Linked DNA regions of Homo sapiens. The protein of the gene in region 5 purifies or fractionates together with the protein of the main gene of each other region. This does not show direct contact. Each region holds a gene or a part of one and is shown on either strand. Other genes may lie near its edges.

Evidence for each region.
Region 1: the proteins of SEMA7A (region 5) and TMEM39B purify together in Homo sapiens (affinity purification with mass spectrometry; 2 studies listed by BioGRID and IntAct, with this or other methods). This does not show direct contact.
Region 2: the proteins of SEMA7A (region 5) and TAPT1 purify together in Homo sapiens (affinity purification with mass spectrometry; one large-scale study listed by BioGRID and IntAct). This does not show direct contact.
Region 3: the proteins of SEMA7A (region 5) and DPY19L1 purify together in Homo sapiens (affinity purification with mass spectrometry; 2 studies listed by BioGRID and IntAct, with this or other methods). This does not show direct contact.
Region 4: the proteins of SEMA7A (region 5) and FAM185A fractionate together in Homo sapiens (co-fractionation; one large-scale study listed by BioGRID). This does not show direct contact.
Region 6: the proteins of SEMA7A (region 5) and SOAT1 purify together in Homo sapiens (affinity purification with mass spectrometry; 2 studies listed by BioGRID and IntAct, with this or other methods). This does not show direct contact.

Annotation. Positions count from the first base shown.
Region 1 is NC_000001.11:32,100,151-32,103,363, reverse strand, and holds the end of TMEM39B (transmembrane protein 39B), read right to left. Parts: intron 3,074-3,213; exon of another isoform or gene 2,923-3,073; coding exon 2,802-2,922; intron 2,624-2,801; coding exon of another isoform or gene 2,453-2,623; exon of another isoform or gene 2,293-2,452; coding exon of another isoform or gene 2,257-2,292; exon of another isoform or gene 1,250-2,256; coding exon of another isoform or gene 1,151-1,249; exon of another isoform or gene 934-1,150; coding exon 691-933; 3' UTR 501-690; downstream 1-500. UniProt on the Homo sapiens protein: May protect the cells against DNA damage caused by exposure to the cold-warming stress and facilitates tissue damage repair during the recovery phase.
Region 2 is NC_000004.12:16,219,972-16,223,471, reverse strand, and holds part of TAPT1 (transmembrane anterior posterior transformation protein 1 homolog), read left to right. Parts: intron 1-3,500. UniProt on the Homo sapiens protein: Plays a role in primary cilia formation. May act as a downstream effector of HOXC8 possibly by transducing or transmitting extracellular information required for axial skeletal patterning during development. May be involved in cartilage and bone development.
Region 3 is NC_000007.14:35,027,486-35,030,985, reverse strand, and holds part of DPY19L1 (protein C-mannosyl-transferase DPY19L1), read left to right. Parts: intron 1-3,500. UniProt on the Homo sapiens protein: C-mannosyltransferase that mediates the C-mannosylation tryptophan residues on target proteins.
Region 4 is NC_000007.14:102,747,574-102,751,798, reverse strand, and holds the start of FAM185A (protein FAM185A), read right to left. Parts: upstream 2,801-4,225; 5' UTR 2,592-2,800; coding exon 2,141-2,591; intron 108-2,140; coding exon 1-107.
Region 5 is NC_000015.10:74,413,459-74,416,958, forward strand, and holds part of SEMA7A (semaphorin-7A isoform 1 preproprotein), read right to left. Parts: intron 3,257-3,500; coding exon 3,117-3,256; intron 2,528-3,116; coding exon 2,343-2,527; intron 1,489-2,342; coding exon 1,380-1,488; intron 1,288-1,379; coding exon 1,089-1,287; intron 1-1,088. UniProt on the Homo sapiens protein: Plays an important role in integrin-mediated signaling and functions both in regulating cell migration and immune responses.
Region 6 is NC_000001.11:179,338,797-179,342,296, reverse strand, and holds part of SOAT1 (sterol O-acyltransferase 1), read right to left. Parts: intron 2,860-3,500; coding exon 2,752-2,859; intron 1,270-2,751; coding exon 987-1,269; intron 288-986; exon of another isoform or gene 184-287; coding exon 105-183; intron 1-104.

The DNA.
Region 1 (3,213 bases), on a different chromosome or scaffold from region 5:
TATTTTTAGTAGAGATGGGGTTTTGCCATCTTGGCCAGGCTGGTCTCGAACTCCTGGCTTTCAGTGATCTGCCCACCTCGGCCTCCCAAAGTGCTGGGATTACAGGCTTGAGCCACTGTGCCCGGCCTTTCAGAGGTTTTATGTCCAGCTCTACCACTTCCTAGCTGTGTTACTACGGGCAAGTCACTATAACTCTCTGAGCTCCAGTTCTTCATCCATTGGAGTGATAGCACTTTCCTCCTAGGGTTGTCATAAAAGTTAGATTAAGGCAAGGCCTGAAATACACACAGAGCAGCATCTGGCACACAGTGAGCATTCAGTTCGCAGTAGCTATCACTGCTCCCGTGGCCTCCAGTGCCTTCTCATCTCCTCTCTACTGAAGAAGGCAGTACCCACAGAGGCTTCAGAAGCCACATGTTGGGGCTTCCTAAACCAGAATCCCACACCTCTGTAATAGGTCTCACACACACGAAGGAAAAGAACCACAGGACACAGGCTTGTTGGGAGTATAAAAATAGGACTTTTTTCCTTATCACATCAATTATCAAAGAAACAGTACGTAACAAAAATACAAAGCTCTGGTGGATTTTTTTGTCTTTTGTCCCCCCCACCACCACTTCTACCCAACAGCCCCTTGCCAGGGAGCCCTTGGCTGAAGCCTGGACGCTGTCCCTGAGGTGACCCCAGGGCTCAGGAGAAACGGTGGTCCAGGTCTCTCTGGGGGCTAGCAGAGTATGAGTAGGCCTTGCCCAATACCAAGCGGTCCCGGAGCAGCTTGAAGAAGGCATAGTAGTTGCTGAAGAGGATGAGGGCCAGCGAGATGGTCTGGTGCCACTTTTCAGAGGACATTAGGGAGTACAGCTGATAGACAATGACAGCGCCCTCCAGCAGCAGGAGGATGTTGAGGATCCGCAGGGGTTTGCTGAAAAAGAACTGCCCGGAAGCGGGTGGGCATGGCTAAAAGGTGTGCTCCAGAAATCTTCCTCCTGGATGGGGGTTCTGGGTGGGCCAGTGAAGGGGACAGCCTCCTGGGGCCCCATGCAGACATGGGTGGGGAAGAAGACTTTCTGGGGTTGGATGTGGACTTTGCCACCTCATCTGCCTTTGCTTGTGGTATTCCTCCTGATAGGACTGCTGCTTCTGATGTAAGTCATCTAAGATCCTGTTCAACTTCTACCTCCCCTAGGAAGTCTTTCTTGACAGGTTCTGCTTGCTCTCTCAAACTCTTTTTGTGGTCTAAAGTCAACACCTTTAAAAAAATTTTTTTTAATTTTTGAAAACTTTTTCTCCCTCATCCACTGACCCTCAATAAAATCAACACCTTTTAATGTCATCTCCTGGGTATTGCTGGGCCTGAACAAATTAGAATCCTATGACATAGGCATGGAAAGTTATTACAGACTCTACAGCCTGAATTACCTACTACTTCATAGGTACATCCCTAGCTAGGCTGGAAGCTGCCAAGGGACATGGCAACAGCTCACTCTCAACAGCAAGGTAGAACGTAGGGACTAAAAAAAAATCTCTGATGAGTTCAAAAGAGTGCACAGTGTCTAGGGATTTTGATTCCACAGGGGCCAAGGTACCTAAATCTCAAGAGCTGCTTACAGGACAGGAGAAGTGGTAGGAAATGGGAGGCCAAGAGACCAGGATATCAGGCTCAGCTCTGCACCTAACAGGCTGCAATACTTTGGTCAAGTCCCTTTCCTCTCTGGGGCTTGGATGTCTCAACTGTGAAATGAAGACATCAGTCTAGGTCAGTGATTTCTCATGCTGTGTTCCTTAGAGCCCCAGGTTTCAAGGGGATCCTTTAGGAGTTACAGCGGGGGTGAGCAGGAAGTGAAGGGGGTTCTAACTCCTCCAAACAGAGCAGTGCCAGGATGTCCCATATATTGGATTTTGGCCTCTGATTGTTTTTTTTAAAAAAGGGGGGGAGGGGATTTCATAGTGAAATTTAAAAAAAAATAGAGATCACTAGTTTAGATAATTTTGAGCAGCCCTTTCCATAGCTAAGTCATGAGTCATTACCATTAGGTTCTCAAGTTTCCCAAGAAGGCACCCTTTAACAAGTTAAACTCTCTTAGCTGATTTCAGTATCTAAAAACAGAGATAACCCTAGCATATCTTTCACGTACAAGGTTCAGGGTAAGGCTGAGTAGGAAGGTACATGGAGAGTGCTTAACGACATGCCTGGCACACAGTAACAAATGAAGACAGTATTGTCTTTCACTGCCAAGAGCCCCTTCTTTTACTGTATCATCTTCTCTCCCTCTGTCCAATGTTCTCAAAGATCTACAACCAAATGAGCTGCAGTTATTTATTTATTTATTTTTGAGAATGAGTCTTGCTCTGTTGCCCAGGCTGGAGTGCAGTGGCATGATCTCGGCTCACTGCAACCTCCGTCTCCTGAGTTCAAGTGGTTCTCCCTCCTCAGCCTCCCGAGTAGCTGGGATTACAGGCGCCCGCCACCATACCTGGCTAATTTTTGTATTTTTAGTGGAGACGAGGTTTCACCATGTTGACCAGGCTGGTCTGGTCTTGAACTCCTGACCTCAGGTGATCTGTCTGCCTTGGTCTCCCAAAGTGCTGGGATTACAGGCGTGAGCCACCATGCCCGGCCGAGCTGCAGTTATTAAGTGACAATTTATATGGCTGTCCTTGTGCTACATGTGTGCACTGTCTTCCTTTGGATTGGGGAAATACTGAAAATAGCTTTCTCTTGCAATGACATCACATTCCTGCCCTGCAGATCCTCCCACCCTCTCAGGCCCCAACCCTCCTTCCCCGGGGAGGAGACTCACATGGAAGCGGAAGTGGGAGACGTCAGAGGGGATAGCCACGTTGTAGTGGCCTACGGCTTTGTAGACGTTCTTGCTGTGCTTCACCAGCACGCCCTGCGGCCACATGCATTCTTCAGTCCACCTGGGGGCACAGTTCAATGGTGCCCCTTATCCCCAGCTCACCCACAAAAGGGATACCAGAAGAATGGGCAGGAGGGAATCACCAGGGCTCTACTCCCATTTCTATCACTTAGACACGCTGACTTTCCTTTTCTGGGTTTCAGTTGCCTCCTCTGTAAAATGGGGTAAGAATCATGAGGAATTCACTGTACTGTGAGTTAGGTGGTCTAGGGCTGACATTAATTACTAAGAGACTGTTGAGAGAACCCTTCTTCCTCTCTGGGTCCCTTTGCTTCATCTGGTCTCACCTCTT
Region 2 (3,500 bases), on a different chromosome or scaffold from region 5:
ATATGTGGTTACTGGCCTTGAACTCTGGATGTAGTGGTTATCAAGAACTGCAGATTGATCTCTTCTGTATTTTCTTCCTGTCCTTGAAAATACTACCAACTTCTGTTGTTCCTTTTGACATAAAACCAAATAATCAATGTTATGTTTTTGTGCTTGTTCCCCACTTGATTCATCTGCAGAAGTCCTAGGTAGGAGAGTTTCTGTATAGCCATATTTTTATTTAGGAATCTAAGTACAGCAAATCAACTTTGGACTAAGCATTAGGAAATCTGTGTTTTTGGCTTGGTTGGGTTGTTGAATTGCTTTGTAAACTCTGTGCTTGCTTAGACTGCTTGCCTAATCAGTTTGGTTCTGTTTCATAATGCCACTACTAGATAGTTCAGTATCTGAAGCATCTAGGTTGCTTCTAGTCACCATGGAGACTTAACAGAAGGCTTGGTGTAAATAAGGGTAGCACCTGTGAGGGTAGCACAGGTGAAACAGTACCTGTGTAATGCAGGTGTTGGAGATGCATGGGGATAGGTATTGCTTGTAAAACAAGAAAGCCTGAAGTCGGGTATAGGTGAACATATTGTTTCTACTGGTAACAGTGCCATGGACCCATTTCTTTCTTCTTTAACAGTGACTCTGGACTTCTAAAACTTCAACTTATTATCCATCTCTTTTGCCTCTCTCCTCTCCCTTTAACCATGGTTAGACCTCTTCTTGCTTCACCTCTGTTAGAGATTGAGCAGAGGCAGGAAGAATGAAACCCAGAAAAGTCAACTGAATTTTTAGCAATACCCTTAAAAGATTTCGAGTGGGACGAAGGTTTTAACTATTCATATTACCTATGTCTTATTCTTTGTGTAACTGAAAATTTGTCAGTTTCTTCTTACAAATACATTTTTATTAAAATATGTTTTCATTTAACCAGTCTTCACCTATATCACATAGTTATCCCAGTGGCCCCAAACTTAACCAAATGGATGATTAAAGGGTGACTGATTCTAAAATTATGATCTAGAGCCAATTAATTTGTTCACAAAGAAAAATAAAAATAATAAAACCGGGAAATTACTTGGAGTAACCACAAACCAGATACAAAGTAAAATTAGCTACTTCTGACAAACTATTGCTTTGCTTTTAAAATTCTCACTTGCTTTACTTAATTAGTATATATAGACCAAACGAACAATGAAAAGTTACTTATTTTGGTTTTTGATCAGTTCAGTGTCTTGGCTTTTGACAGTTTTTAACTTTAACTTAGTTTACGCTCTGAAATTCAATCCTAGCAGCTCATTTGTGCTCCAATTTGGGGACTACTTGCATAAAAGAAGTCTCTGGAAAGCCTATATAGCATTGACTGTCAAATTAATGATATTCTATTCTCATTTGTAATCCTTTGCTTTATAACCTTATGACCTTGGAAAAAGTCACTCCTTTGTTTATACCTGTTTTCCATCTATACATGTGTAAATATTCTACTCTTTACTCCTCTAAATGAGACTATAAACATTTTTTCAAACATCTTAAAAACTTGAATATACTGTGTGAAATGGTTCTTTACTTAATGTTTGACTTAGGAAGGCAGAATTGCTGTTGTATGATTGAGTCCCAGAAAAGCTGATTACTAATTGGCCTGGTACAAGAGTGTGTCTCTGTTCAATAAGCTTATTTAATATTTTAGTGTAACCTTAATAAAGTTTACTAAAGTTTTATGTTATTTAAGACTATGGAGATATGCATGTTTCATATTTTCCTAACAGTTAACCAGTATTACTTTCCAAATTTTTAAATGCTCAATGCTATTTTAAGAAAGATATATTTAGACATATTACTGAACATATAAATATATTTATGATTACTCATTACTTTTAATTAATACTTTTTAATCTTTGGTTCTTATTTCTAAAATAAGCTTTCTTAGAAGATAATTAAACATTGTGTTTTTTCTTTTAGGGGTGAAGAAAAAGCAATTTATACTATGCTTTTTCTGAATTTAAGTTCTGGATCACAGAGCAATTCTGTGGTAGGAGATGATATCATGTAAAAATATGCTGGAGGGGCTGGGCGCGGTGGCTCACTCCTGTAATCCCAGCACTTTGGGAGGCTGAGGCGGGTGGATTGCCTGAGCTCAGTAGTTCGAGACCAGTATGGGCAACACGGTGAAACCCTGTCTCTACTAAAATACAAAAAATTAGCTGGGCGTGGAGGTGTGCGCCTGTAATCCCAGCTACTTGGAGGCTGAGCCAGGGGAATTGCTGGAACCCAGGAGGTGGAGGTGGAGGTTGCAGTGAGACGAGATCGTGCCACTGCACTCACGCCTGGGCAACAGGTGACAGAGCAAGACTGTGTCTCCAAAAAAAAAGTATATATATATGTACGTATGTGCTGGAGGAATTGATTTGGATTTATGATTGGTATTATTTTCCTCATATTACATATTCACAGTTGACGGCTGGGCACGGTAGCTCACACCTATAATCGTAGCACTTGGAGAGGCCAAGGCGGGTGGATTGCTTGAGCCTAGGAGTTCAAGACCAGCCTAGGCAACATAGTGAAACCCTGTCTCTATAAAAAATACAGTGAGCCAAGATTGTGCCACTGGGCTGCAGCCTGGGCAACAGAGTGAGACCCTGTCTCAAAAAAAAAAGAAAATTCACAGTTGTCAAAACATAGTTCTTCTAATGTTAAGCACTTGTTTATGCTATAATAGTAAAATGTTTCTTTTTTTTTTTTTTTGAGATAGAGTCTCGCTCTGTCACCAGGCTGGAGTACAGTGGTGCGATCTTGGCTCACTGCAACCTCCGCCTCCTGGGTTCAAGCAATTCTCCTACTTCAGCCTCCCAAGTAGCTGGGACTGCAGGCGTGCACCACCATGCCCAGCAAATTTTGGTATTTTTAGTAGAGACGGGGTTTCACCATGTTGGCCAGGATGGTCTCCATCTCTTGACATTGGGATCCACCCGCCTTGGCCTCCCAAAGTGTCTATTTTTAAAAAACTTTTACTGAATGATATTTCTTCCTGGTAAGATTGGGATAAATGAACTAAGATTAATTGACATCTTAAAAACTGAAATCAGTGTTCAGAAAGTAAATATTTGGATTATTGGAAAAATACTTATTTTTAAAACGTAGAGGTAGATGTTTGGCATAACAAATGAGAGTGACTGTTTTGCTTAGAAGGAATGAAATACTGCAAAAGTCTGACAGAAGTTAAGATGTACTTAGCTGTCAGAGTTCTTGGTGATACCCATAGGTAAAGAACAGTGGCTTTGCTAAATAATTAACCAGTCAACTGTAGCCAAAATTATAGGACAGATAAGTTCAGATAGGTCTATAGAATTCTAGAGAGCAATGTTTAACAAAATAAAAACAAGCGAAACACTGAAACGCAGGTATACCTCGGCACTGGAGATTGAGTGGCGCTCTGGGAAATGCAGCCTTCTCCAGGAAAAGGTGGGAATGGTCCTGGCAGAGCAGAAGCAGCGAGGCTAACTCGATGGCTCTGGCAGTGA
Region 3 (3,500 bases), on a different chromosome or scaffold from region 5:
AGGCTGCTAGTTTTATTTAGTTACTGTTAGAACTGTTTAGTTATAATGGTTACTAGTCATCAAAGCTAGTAAAAATTACGTCTATATCTGGGTCTAGATGTTGTTTAATCTCATAAAGGGCAGTTTCATTTCATAGGGAAGATCAGTTCTCCATGGAGGACCTTTCATAATTCAGTCAAGAATCACTGAATATAAATACATTTAAAAAGCAGAATAATTTATTTTCAGAATACATAAATCTACAACTATTGTAGCTTGATTTTGTGCTTTAATACTGCTTTCTATTTTCTCAGCATTCTCACTATTATTTTTTTCCTGAGAGCTCTTAATAGCTGTTTGTGTTTTTCTGGCATCTTTCTCCATATTTGTGGCTGATTGTCAGGTGTGTTTTTCAGCACGATCACTATCACATAAAGAATGTTTGGATGGCATTTTGTAATTTTAACTTTATTAAAGCAGCAATTGTTAACATAATAGCGTAGCTGTCACCAAGACCACTTACAGAAGTTCTAGTATGGTTTATTGTACTGATCATGAAAACGTGTGATTTTATCTACTAGTTTACAGTAGCACTAATTGTAAACACAGTTTATAAGTCACTTGACCAGTTACTTTTGAAAACTTGTTACCTAGACAAATTATTAGTTTAGGGAGATTGTTGTAATTGAGAAGAGCGAGGCTTTATTAATATTTTTAATACTAAAATTTGTCCAAAGTGCTACTACTCTGCCCTTTGGGCAAATACTTTTCCTATTTCCTAACAGTAATTACTACTTTTTATAATATAGCTTTTCAGTGTTGGAGTTGTCAACAGCAGAATCTTTTTCTGCGGGTTTTCATATTAATCATAAAGTTCTTATGTAATTGTTTTCCGCTAAGTTTAAAAAGTTGTTGTTGTTTTTTGAAAATGAGACCTTATTTCTCACTCTTTTCTCATCTTTCATATCCATGGGAATGTTATAAAAATGTAGAACTTAAAGGTTACCCTCTTAGAATTTTCTTGGTGAGAAAACTAAAATAGGGCCAGGTGAATGGCCCAATGTAATTATTGAGTTCAGCAGGTGAAGTTTGGGATTGAAGTTGAGTTCTCTTGTCTTTGTTAATTACATCCGTGTAAAATTGTAGGTTTCAGATCTAAAGTCTAAGGCATCTGTCAAAGGCACATTAGTGGGAAGTTGACCTCATGTGTCCCATGACCCTAGAGCTCTTTTGACAAGAGCTTTACTGGCTTCTGGTCATTTGGGGGAATCACTCTTTTATATCTTTATGGTCAACCTGTCAGTCTCTGGGGTTTTTTTATATGATTATTTTTGAAAACTATTTAATTGAATTTTTTTGTGTTGGTTGGCTTGGCAATGATATAACAACACAGTAAAATAGTAAAAAACTGTCACAGTTTTCTTAGTCACTTAAAAGATAAGCAAGATTTGTGATACCCAGGGGAAGCTTGCAATTTGAGGGGAATGCATATCTTACCATTGGAATGGGTTATCAGTTAATGAACTTGTTAAATCTCTTGCTGAATATGATGGGGCCTGGACGTGTGTTGTAGGTGTGTGTGGTTCTCTTTTTACTCTAGTGGAGAGATGCAGATTCTACACTTTTTCCATTAGGTTTACTAAAGTTTTACAGCTTCCCTATGCATGCTCAGAAGCAGATCATATTATCTTGGTTGTGTATCTTATCTAGCCATTTGTTCTTAAAACAATAAAATGCACTTTTTTAATAAGAAGAAAGTTACTTTATGAAAATTACTAATGTAGATTACTGTTTGATTTTGAAATGTTTGCGTCAAAGTCATTCGAATCAGAGCAAATCCATTTCGAATGGAGGCTGAGTAAAATAAGGCTGAGACCTACCAGGCTGCATTACCAGAAGGTTAGGCATCCTAAGTCACAGGATAAGATGGGAGGTCAGCAAAAGGTACAGGTCACAAAGACCCTGCTGATAAAACAGCATGCGGTAAAGAAGCCAGCCAAAACCCACTGAAACCAAGATGGCGATGAAAGTGACCTCTGTCATCCTCACTGCTCATTATACACTAACTGTAATACATTAGCATGCTAAAAGACATATCCACCAGTGCCATGACAGTTTACAAATGCCATGGCAATGTCAGGAAGTTAGGCTATATGGTCTAAAAAGGGGAGGAACCCTCAGTTCCAGGAATTGTCCCCCCCTTTTCCAGAAAACTCATGAATAATCCACCCCTTGTTTAGCATATAATCAAAAAATAACCATAAGTATGAGAATACTATAAGTATCCTTAGTCCAGCAGCCCAAACTGTTCTACCTATGGAGTAGCCATTCTTTATTCCTTTACTGAATGAACTTGCTTTGGACTCGCCCGGAATTCTTTCTTTTGCAAGATCTAAGAACTCTGTCTTGTAGTCTGGATCAGGACCGTTTTCTGGTAACATTTGTATTCATATTATGTGAGGATAAGACTTTTAAGGGAAATTAGAATTTATTGTCTTCAAAACACTTACGTTGAGTAGTTGTATTAAGTATTGCCTAATTTAATATCTGTACATATATACATATTTAAAATATGTGAACATTTACTTAGTGTATTTCTCTGTTTAGAAGCCTAATTATATTCCGCTTTGGGATGGTGATATATACTTTCCATGCTCTCCTGTTTTCATATACTGTATTCACTTTAAAATAAATCGTTTTGTCCTTGATGCTCTTGTGATTTCTAAGGCATTTCCTCCTGTGTGCTAGTGCATCCTCTTCGTTGAATGTGCTTAACATCTTCGAGCCTGAGCTTGGAGTCAGAGAAACCCAGCTCTCCTCCAGGCCTTGCTGTATCCCAGTCATGTGCCCCTGAGCCTCATGGGAAAATAAGACCCATATCTGCCTCAAAGGCACCCCTAGATCATTTTTGCTTAATATGTGAAAGGGCTCTCTAAACTGCAACTGACAAACAGATGTTAGACATTTTCATTGTAATTAAGTTTTCTAATTTTTTCTTAACTGTTGGAAAGCACAGTTTTGCTTAATGCAAAATATATGGAGGAGATTCTGATTAACTAAAGTTGTGCTTAAAACCATCATCATGTAGACCACTGATTTCTAGATCTTACTAGGGGCAGTAGTTTCTTCAGATCATGACTGAATTTTATTTTTATTTATTTATTTTTTGAGACGGAGTTTTGCTCTTGTTGCCCAGGCTGGAGTGCAATGGCGCAATTTTGGCTCACTGCAACCTCTGCCTCCCAAGTTCAAGCGATTCTCCTGCCTCAGCCTCCCAAGTGTCTGGGATTACAGACATGTGCCACCATGCCCAACTAATTTTTTTTTTTTTTTTTTTTAGTAGAGACGGGGTTTTGCCATGTTGGCCGGGGATGGTTTCGAACCCCTGACCTCAGGTGATCCACCCGCCTCGGCCTCCCAAAGTGCTGGGATTACAGGCGTGAGCCATGGAGCCCGGCCTTCATGACTGAATTTTAAAAGCAATCTTGCTTCTCACTTTGAAACTCAATATCTCTATTAAT
Region 4 (4,225 bases), on a different chromosome or scaffold from region 5:
AACAGACTGCAAGATACTAGTCCCATGCTCTGTTTCAATTTTGCAATTATCACCCTCAATACTTTGAACTTTTACACAGCCAGACCCTGATGACTTGATATCTAAACCTAGAAGTAAAAAAAGAAAAAAGCAAGTTAGTACTGCAGTTTATAAGCTCCAAAGCATTTTAACCTAGAAACCCAACTCCTCAGTTATGTCCGTAATATTGCTGAATCCTGGAAAGTGCATACTGTAAAGGTAAGGGGTCTTCTACCACAGCAACGGGACCAAAAACAATAGCCTTTCTGCCCGTTTTTAGAAACAGAGCAGTTATTTCTACTGGCCTAAATCACCTAAAGAGAACTAACATAGATGGGAAGTAAAGGAGACTACGATTCTGTTAAGTACTCCTGTGAAAGACTGTAGAAGCCTCTTCCCCAGTATATATGATCATGACTTAGGTTTTCAAATCCTATGTCTAACCTTTCATACTTAAAAAATGAAAATATTACCATGCAACTATATCACAGGTATTTGAAGTAATTTTTTAAAAATGGGAACAACTTTGAAAAAGCTAATATATACTATTAAAACTACAAGATTAGGCCATGAGCAGTGGCTCATGCCTGTAATACCAGCACTTTGGGAGGCCGAGGAAGGAGGATTGCTTGAAGCCCAGGAGTTCAAGACCAGCCTGGACAATGTAGCAAAACTCCATTTCTACAAAAAAACAAAAACATTAGCCGGGCATGGTAGCATGCACCTGTAGTCCCAGCTACTCAGGAGGTGGAGGCGAGAAGATTGCTTAAAACCGTGAAGTCAAGACTGCAGTGGGCCATGATTGTGCACCTGTACTCCAGCCTGCGTGGCAGAGTGAGTGAGATGCAGTCTCAAAAAAAACCAAAACAAACAAACAAAAAACCCCACAAGATTGTGGACAAATGGCAGTGGTATATGAAGCAAGTTTGGAAAATAAGGAATTACAAATGCCATCCTTGGCTGTCTATTTAAGATGTAACTGCAGGCATCTCTGTATACAAATTTTAAAAATTAAAAACGCTGATATTTAATTTGGAATTAACATAAATATTGATGATTTCTCTTAAAGTAGGCAAGACCCGCCCCCCCACTTGATTCCTGAAACCACAAATAGTACCAAATCCTATATATTCTATGTTTTTTCCTGTATACATATCAATGATCAAGTTTAATTTATAAACTAGGCATAGTAAGAGATGAACAATAATAACAAATACAGCAATTATAACAATATACTGTAATAAAAGTTATATTACTGTGATCTGTCAAAATATCTTAATATTTTCCTACAACAGCTGAGGCAGGTAACAAACTGAGACAGCCAAACGGTGGATAAGGGAGGACTACGGCATCTACTATTTGGGCAACTCTAAGCATTATAAAAGATGATCTTAAAAATGCTAAATGCTATTATTATTACTATCATCATCATCATCAATATCTTCCATCAGTCCCAGGAAGAATGACAGTCTGGGGAGCCCTTCCTAGAAAAGTGTGTGTACACAGTGGCTTGCCATTTAGGAAAAGCTAAGAAAGGTATCTTGCAGGCATTATTATTGAAGCTTCCTAGGCAGGCTTACCATGTGTTTTTCTTCAAAGCTTGCTACTCATGGAAAACTTAGGCCAAAAAGAATGGAAATATAACAGTAAGAAGCTGGGCGCCCGTCTAAAACCAAATACTCAAACCAGGTGATACCCGGAACATCCTATTGACAGGGCTGTTTTGGGACAGACCCCCAGGCTGTGAGCAAGATGAAATGTAGATGGACTGCCATACCATTGAATGAATTGTCAAGAAACTTCAACCTTGAAAAATAAGCCAGTTTGCTAATGACAACGGGATAAAGGAGAACACAAGCGGCTCCAGAAATAGAATTTGACCTGGATTATACCAAATCATGTTTCCATTCGATGTATAAAATTTCTATAATTGGGAACCTAATTTTTAAATACTACTCGGACACTCAAGAACAGAACAGAGGAAAAGGTGCATTTCCGAAGGGGCCAACTGTAAATTAGGTTTAGAGAGCCAGGACCAATTAAAAGTGCACGTCGACCACATTTATTAAGTTCACTGTGCGTTCCCTGGGACCCAAACCCGTTTTCACTTCACTTCACTTGCCAAACTTCAGGGGCGCGTTCACCTCCACGGACGCCTGGGGGTGGATAGTATCAGACACAATGGCCATCTCCTCCAGATCCTCGTCGTACTTCACCTGCAGGCCGTCCAGGCCCCGCACGCCGCCCTCCACGCCGCACACCGCGACCAGCACGCGGTCGCCATCCGGGTAGGTGAGGGGGTCCAGGGGCCTCACGGCCAGGTGGCACGGGAGCCGCGCCCGCAGCCGACCAAACGGGCTCACCTGCAGTGTCCACTCCTTCAGAGTTCGGCGCCCCGGGCCAGGCGGAGGGACCTCAGTCTCCGATCCGGGCCAGCGCTCGCTCCCACCTGAGCTGTACGGCCTGGCTTGGCAAGCCCAGCAAGCCCAGCGCCCAGCGCCAGCCCACAGTCGGACCTGACGGAGACAGAGACGGAAGCAGCCAAGCTCCCAACCTGAGCAGGGGGCAAGCATGGCGCGCCTCTCTCGCCAGTCCTCAGAACACTTCAGCCACAGGGAGGGTCACTTGCCACGGCCAATCGACTTGGCCACTGTGCCGCCTCAAGTCAAATAGGAGACGTAAGTCAGGGTTTGCTGAAACAAGAGCGAGCCGGTTGGCTTGACTAGGCGTTCTAAACATCAGCCGCGCAATCCCCAGGGGCAAGTTGGGATTTGAAAGCTCTAAACTCTGACCTGGACCCCTTGCCTAAGTCCACCCCCTTTCGCTAAGGCCGACGGGATAGGTAGTTCTAAGTCGCAGAGCTCTGCCTCTTAGAAACCACATTTCCCAGGAGGCAATGCGCAGGGGAGCACGGGTAAGAGGGTAGGTGTTAGAATCGCTGGAAAGGCGGGCGCCCTTTGTCTCAAGACCATTGGCTATTGGAGGGGCGGTACATGGGAGTCCACTGGCCAATGGGAAGCACGGAAGGGGCAACGCGGGTAAAGCTGCGTGGTCACCTTGGATACCAAGCACGCGACTTCTTGGTTGGAGAGGGTGGAGCTTTGGAGTGAGACCCAGGACGCCAAATCCCAAAGAGAAAAATAGGAGCCTAAATAAGGATCAGGACCAAGGGAAGGGGTAAGAAACTGCGCTTTTTAAGATGACAACTAGGTGCAAACTAGGAGTAACCTCTGTGGATGTCAACATCCAAGCTTCACTAACTTAGTGAGGGCATCTCCAGGGCATGGAGAATGCCTTGGTAAGAAAGTAAAGAGCAAGATTGGTGCTTTTTGAGGGAATTGCCTCTTTGGAAGTGTATTCCCTCCTATATTCCAAATATAGGAATAGAGTACTTGCTCCGTCCTGACCCTAAGTGACCTTACTTTGGGTTTTAATTTGCTCACTTTAAAAATGTAGATAATAATACCTTCCTTGCCTTGCCTCAAAGGGTTTTTGTAAGGATCAAGTAAGAAAATGGATGGGACCGTGGTGCACAGTCTACAAAATTACCGTGTAAAGAACTGTATTTTTATTTCAACGTACTTAACATTGATTCTGAGTTACCAAGAAAATTATGAGAGATCAGAACTTGTTTTGAGAATAGCATTGATCTCTTTGACTACAAATGATCCTCAGTTTTAGAGTGAAAAAAAAAAAAAAGACACAAAAAAGAGAGTCACCATGGTGCGGTGGAAAGAGCAGGGACAAGGGTCAGGTTATTTTCCTGGCTCTGCCACTGCTTCATCTGTGTCACCTAGACCTGTTTCTTTAGTTTTAAAATGAAGAAAGATGGTTCTAAATGACCCTATAAGGGGTGTGTGTGTGTGTGTGTGTGTGTGTGTGTGTGTGTTTACCTTTTATAATTCTATAGGCAGTAAAATAATGGGAACAGAAAGATTTATTTTCTTCTTTTTTCTTTTTTTCTTCTTTCCTGCCTGGTTTCTCTCTCCCCCTCTGTGCCCCTACTTCCTCCTAAAATGTATTCCCTAAATTATTTAGCCAAGACACCTGCAAACACTAACATTTCATAAAATGCAAGTGCCTTAAAAAATAGAAGCCCTTACCCAAGTACAATGACCAGAATTCTTGGGGCTATCGTGATAGATAGACTGGGCTAAAGTTCTCATGGGTACAAGTCTCAGGTTCTCTGCTAGCCACTACCTTTTTA
Region 5 (3,500 bases):
AATCCATGGCCCAAGTCCAGCCTTCCTTGTCCTAGCTCCTGCTCCCAGTTCCGCACTGTGTGACCTCTCCTCTTCTGCTCCCCAGTGCCCTGCCATCCCTGGCTGACCACAACAGCTGTGCCAGCCACTACTGGAGCCAAGCAAGGATGGGGGCCCAAGGGTGTAGCCGGGATGAATAGGGAGTAAAGAGGCAGGGAATCAGGACCCAGGCCCTGCCCTGTGGGAAATTCCTCTCCCCAAGGCTTCCAGGAGCCAAACAATGGTGCTGGGGTTCCAGTTTCCTACAAGGTCACCAAAGCCGAGACAGTTCCAAGGTGAAGCAGCAACAGGAGATCACATGGGGAATGTGAACAACTGAGGTTGGGCGCCTGGGCCTGAATTGAATGGCCCCAGGGGTGCTAGAGGCCCTTTCCAGTCTCAAGGAAGGCAGCTGGCATGGGAAGCTGCGACAAACCCAACTCAGGACTGGCTCCTCCGTGTCCTGTGGCTTTCCAGAAAGCAGGAGCATCTCCCACGGCATTCCACCCAGCTTCCCCCAGCAGGGCCTACTCCAGGGAAGAAGAGAAGCTGCCCCTGTCCTCTGTGAGATGGCAAAGGTTCTGCCCCCTGGAACTCCTTCCTCATACCTAATTTGTGCCCCATCAACTCCTCAAATGTTTCCTCTCACCTGCACAATCCCAAAGACAGGCGCAGGGCCTGACTCCCTCATTCTGCCTGGCAGAGGCCAGTATCCCTGTGGTTCAGGCCCCTCCTCCTCATTTGCCACGTCTCTTCCTACCATCTTCTTCCCTGAGTCAGACATCTGGACCAAAGGTGCACCTGGCTTTGCTCAGACTCTCCAGATTTCCGCCTCCAAATCCCAGTGCTTGCTTTTCTCCCATCCCCCTTTCCCTCTTGCCCCTACCTCCTCCAGGAAGCTCTCCCTGCCTGACTCTTCCACACCCACACACATTAACCCCTGACAACTCCAGTCACTCAATTATTCCTTCCACATGTAAAGATCCAACCAGATGTTAACTACATTATTCCTTACACCTTTCATGCCCGTTTTTACAAAGCAAACTGAGGGTCCCGGGGTAGCCTCTCACCTGTAGTTAGGTAAAGCACATGAAAGGTCTCCCCGTGGCTGGCTTGCATGCGGTGGACGGCCACTTTCTGGTAGTGGTATTTAGAGTGGAACAATGGCGTCTTCAGAGGCCCCATGGGCTCCACCCTCTGCGCCACCTCTGGGTGACGGTCAGCCACCTGGAAGGTCTCTGTGGGTATCGGCTGCTGGTCTGGGAGGCACTGGGCAAGGAGAGCAGGCCCAGGTCAGTGGGGTGGTGGGAGGTGAGGCAGAAGGAGGGCTGGGCCTGGGCCACGGCTGGTGTCACGCTCACCTTGCCAGGCCGCGGGTTGGGAAGGCTTGAGTGGTAGCCCTTGAGTGAGGAGGTACGGAAGACCTTGTCAATGTCACCGAGGGAATACACACAGACGGCTGAGTAGTTCCTGCAGTGACATGGAGACCAGCTCAATGGGGGGCCCAGAACCCACCCATCCACCTCCACTCACCCAGGCCAGCCTTGTGCCTGGCACTGAGTTGCCAACCACCACTGAAAATGGGGAGGGATGGAGAGGAGGAAGGAGAGGAGTTCAGCCTAATTTCTTTGTGCTGCAATTTAAAACCACAAACTTGTATCCTGTTACAGAATCACTGAGTCTAGAGGCCATCTGCTCTACCCAACCCCAAGGCAGGAGGAACCCCATCATAGGCTGAGCAGTTCTCTAGCCCTCCCTGGGCACAGGCTGTGGGGTGCTGATGCCCCAGGAGGCCAGACCCCCAACCCCTTCCCAGCCTGGGGGACCCCACTCACCCAGGAGCCACAGAGCAGGGTCTTGGCTTCCTCCACTCTATCCCTAACTCTCCCCACACACACCCAACACTTCCGCCTGCCGTGTGTTCAATCAATGAGAGTGATTAAGAAGTGTGAATTATCGGGCTCAGGCAGTGCCTGAGCAGGTGTAATAGCACCCAGCTCCCCGAGAGATGCTTCAGCAGCTTCCTCCTGGGCCCAGTGTCCACTCTCGGCACAAGCAGGTGGTGGGACACACAGGCACAAGTGCAGTCATGAGTGTGCATATAGGGCATGCACACACACCCATGAGTGCAGACTCACTCACACAACAGTACATACATCGCACTGGCTGTCCCCCCACCCCACACCCAGCAACAGCCCAGCCTCTTGAGCCTGCAGCCCCTGCTCCTGCCACACCAGGGAGGCCCTCAGCAGGGCCCAAGGCCTCCTGTCCCTACTGGACACTGAACCAATGCCAGCCCCGGCCCCAGGACAAGGGCCACTCACCAGGGGTTGGAGAAAACACCATAGACCCTGGTGTCCCTCCACTGGCCGCTGGGGTCAGGGAGCAGGAAGACGTCTTGCAGCCTGTTGAAGTTCTTGTTGGTGGCAGCATCACTGCATACCAGCATGGCTTTCAGAAAAGTGTTCCACTTGGAGACTGACAGTGAACTTTCCCCACCCTGGTCCCCCTGGAAGGGTAGAGGGGAGAAGAGGCCCCTCAGCACCTGCCCGGGCTTCCCCACACACCCCAGGAAACCACTGCCAGCAATATCAACACCTGGGCCCAGAGGAGGAAGGCAGGCTGTGAGGGGCCAGGACCTGCCGGGGGTGCCCCAGGACTCAGGGCAGGTCTCCAGATGAGACTCCAGCAAGCAGGCCTGGCTGATCCAGAGCCCAGGGCCAGCAGTGCCCAGGGTCAGGGCAGGTGAGAGTGCCAGGTCCCCACAGAGCAGACGGACTCAGACACACATTTACTGACTCACACACCCACACACGTGGCACAGCACATTCACACAGGCAAAACACACACACACACACACACACACCCCATCATACACACGCTCACACGCCATCATACGTGCACAGGAGCTCAGCCACCTTTACCCACACACAGACACATGATGCTCCATGCACACACAGCTGCTCCCACAGTCCCTGACACAGACCCACTCATACATCCACACAACTTCTACATGCACACGGACACACAGAACTCACCCTCACTCAGGCCTATTCATGCACAGACACGTAGCCAGCAGCCCTCACGCCCCTGCTCACCCTGCACAACTGGGCCACACGGGACACATTGAGAGGAGCCTCAGGATTCTTGTCAGGATTGTCCTCTCGGAAGAAGTAGTAGATCTTGTCATCGTAAGCCTGGTCTTGGTGCACGATGGTGGCTTTGATGAACTGTGGGTCTGCCAGGGACAGAGGCGAGTGGGCGTAAGGCTGGGAAGCTTGCCCGGGAGACCATCCCAACCCTGCACACTCTCCTCCCTCCTTCGGGTCTGCACAAACCATGGCAAATCAGATCTGGAATAGGACTCAGAACATCAGGTCCAACTCCCCGAGGGGCCCTAGACCCTGCACCTCCACCCCACACCTGTTTTGCCCTCTTCCTACAAAGATGTCATCGGCCCAGGAGCAATGACTTCATGCCTG
Region 6 (3,500 bases), on a different chromosome or scaffold from region 5:
GGAGGGAAGGAAAGAAGGAAAGAAGGGAAGGGAAGGGAAGGGAATGGGGTGGGGGGAGAGGAGGGGAGGGGAGGAAGAAATAATGAACAAAAGAAATTACATACTTGATTTCTCCTTAGCTGAATTTAGTACCCGAGGCACGTTCTCTCTGACAAATGAGTGGGCCTTCATTACAAAACGAATCTACAAAAGCAGGAGGAAAAAGATGTCTCTTCAAAGAAAGTCTCCTGCAAGTGTCCTTTCCATTAGTCAAATGCATTATAGATAGCCAGTAAAGTCAGAAAATCCTGATAAGTGTATAAACAAATTAAAATAAAACCTTTATTATATAGTTACATGACAAAACAATGAATCTGACATTTCAAAAGTGAAGTTTTTAATTATGAAAATATTTTATAATTTAAATGACTTTTACAAAAAGTATTCAGAAACAAAATCTTGATGCATCAAAAATAATTCAATGTGGCCGGGCGCGGTGGCTTACGCCTGTAATCTCAGCACTTTGGGAGGCCGAGGCAGGCGGATCGTAAGGTCAGGAGTTTGAGACCAGTCTAGCCAATATGGTGAAACCCCATCTCTACTAAAAATACAAAAATTAGCCGGGTGTGGTGGCAGGCGCCTGCAGTCCCAGCCACTTGGGAGGCTGAGGCAGAAGAATCACTTGAACCTGGGAGGCAGGGGTTGCAGTGAGCCGAGATGGTGCCACTGCACTCCAGCCTAGGTGACAGAGCGAGACTCTGTCTCAAAAAAAAAAAAAAAAGTTCAACGTAATTTATTTATCAAAATTCAGAGAACATGGAAGCTACAATGAAACTTAAGAGGTGAGATGATTCTAGTTTAACAATTTTACAGATAATGGCAAAAGAACAATATATGAAAATTTATCCAAGTTAATACAGCTAAAAATAATAGTATCAGTATGTCATCATCATTATTATTATTTTAGCCGAGGACAGCATCGCCTTGGGTAACACTTAAAACCTTACCTGCTCGAATATAATGATGAACCGGGAAGCTGGTGGCAGTGTATATGCTAACACAACATATGTTGGTCCAAAACCTAGAACTCCAATCTGGAAGATCATGAAAAGAAAGCCATGGAAGAGAGAACGGATCAGCGGATGAGAACTCTTGCTATAGCCAGTGGCCCAATGTTGAAACAGAAAATAGGGAACTGAAAATGTAGACAGGAACATGATCCACCAGGTCCAAACAACGGTAGGAAATTTGCCAAAAGCATAAGACAGGAGGCTGAACTCAAGCACCAGCCTGGGGAGAAAAGGTACAGAAAAAGAACATAGAGGTGAATTTTTAATATACACTGAGTTCACAGAATTTAAAAGTTTCAAACACCAAACTTTCAACCTTAGGAAACACCACAACGTTAATACGCTGAAGTCATGGATGTAATAGTTCTGCTAGTTAGAGATCTGCTTCTAACCATCTGCTTTACAATATATATATATATATATATATCAACAATATATGTTCTTTAGAAACAAATTTTCTAAAAGCCCTAAGATAAATACAGTCTTCAAACTTAAGATATCTAAGATAATTGGACTTTGAACTTCTGAAAGATTAGATTCTCACATTAATTTTCTAACTGTAAAATATTCTATGGAAAATATTCAAACAGCAATCGTTCTTATGTACAAAAGATGATTTTTCAGAAGAAATAGGTACAATTTAAAAATATGTTAATATACTATACCATTATCTCCAAACTTAATTTTCAAAAAAAGTACATAATTCAATCCATGATTACCACGCTGTCATTTTTTAAGCTACAATTTGAGTTTTAAAATTTTATTTTGAGATCTGGTCTCCTTTGCATCCAGGCTGGAGTGCAGTGGCACAAACACAGCTCCACTGCAGCCTCAACCTCCCTGGCTCAAGCGATCCTCCTATCTCAGCCTCCTGAGTAGCTGGAACTACAAGTGTCTGCCACCACGCCCAGCTAATTTTTAAATTTTTTGTAGAGATGTTGCCCAGGCTGGTCTCCAACTCCTAAGCTCAAGTGATCCTCCCGCCTCGGCCTCCCAAAGTGCTGAGATTACAGGCACAAGCAACCATGCCTGGCCTATAATTTGACTTTCACATTAAAAAGAAATATCAACTTTTTCAACCTTCAATTCCAATAAGCTACTTGTTTTAAGTAACCATCTTAAATAAAGACAATCAAAAAGTTAATAAGTCATATACAGTTATCCCTCCCTATACATGGGGGGTTGGTTCCAGGAAACTGTGCAGACACCAAAACTTATGCAAATTCGAGGCCCACAGTTGGCCCCGTGGAACCCACAGATATGAAAAATCTGCCATTCTTATATGTGTGTTTTGCATCCTGGAATACTCTAGATCCCAATCAGCCTTTGCTTGCAGATGTAGAACCCATGGATACAGAGTGCTAAACACATTGATTGAAAAAATTCTGTGTATAAATAGACATGCACAGTTCAAACCCGTGCTGTTCGTAGGTCAACTGTGTATAAAGTTCTCCCATTTGGGAAAATTACCTAGAAATTACTGATTATGGTCTATTCAAATAAACCATTTTAAAAATAAAAGTAATGAAACTTCTAATTTTCTCCATCAGTTAAACTTTTCAGGGCAAAGGAATATCACCCTCAAATCTGCTGCTTTAGGATTTCCTGAAGCAATTTAATCAATTTACCCTTTACCAAAATTTAGTGAAAACCTCTAACTTCTCATGCATCAACTAGCCAGCCATCTTTTTTGTTGTCTTACCTTCCTTCATCAATGTAATCTACTACAAGTGTGCTGAGGATAAAGAGAATGAGGAGGGCAATAAACATGTGATATATTGTTCTGATGTGGTCCACTTCAAGCAGTTCACTGTAAATGTAGTTCAAACAAAACAAGTTAATAATGTATATTTAAATTTAAAACACCATAAAATCTTTTCTTAAAGCAGTTAACTTAAAGCAGTTGAGAAGATGCTTAATCCACTCTCCAAAAACATCTCAAAAAAGAATGGTCTACATTCTTTAAAACCTACCAGAAATGGATGTTTTCTAAGTAAACAAAGGCCAGTCACTAAAAACAGGAAACAAACTATTTCAAATGTTAAGAATTTTTTAATCCTATTCATATTCTACTCCCTAAATTTAATATATATTAAGTACTACCTATTTCCAAAATGTTAAAATTGACATGAGTTTCTATAATGTTGATCATGATGATGATGATAACCAATTACTACCCTACACGTCTATAAAACTCAACCATTTACAAAGATTTTACCTTCTCATTGACTTTTGTATTTAAGACTGGTCTAATTTTCTTTTAGAATATAACAATAATATAGATGACTTTTCCTAAATAATCTTTTATATCTGACTAAAACAGGTTTTTAAACTTGTTTTAACTTGTTTTTGGAAAGATAATGCTAATCTTTTAAATGATTTTGAGTAATCTAATATACTACTACTCAATCTCTGGACCAAGGATCTTCACAGTCTAATAAAAACTCATCT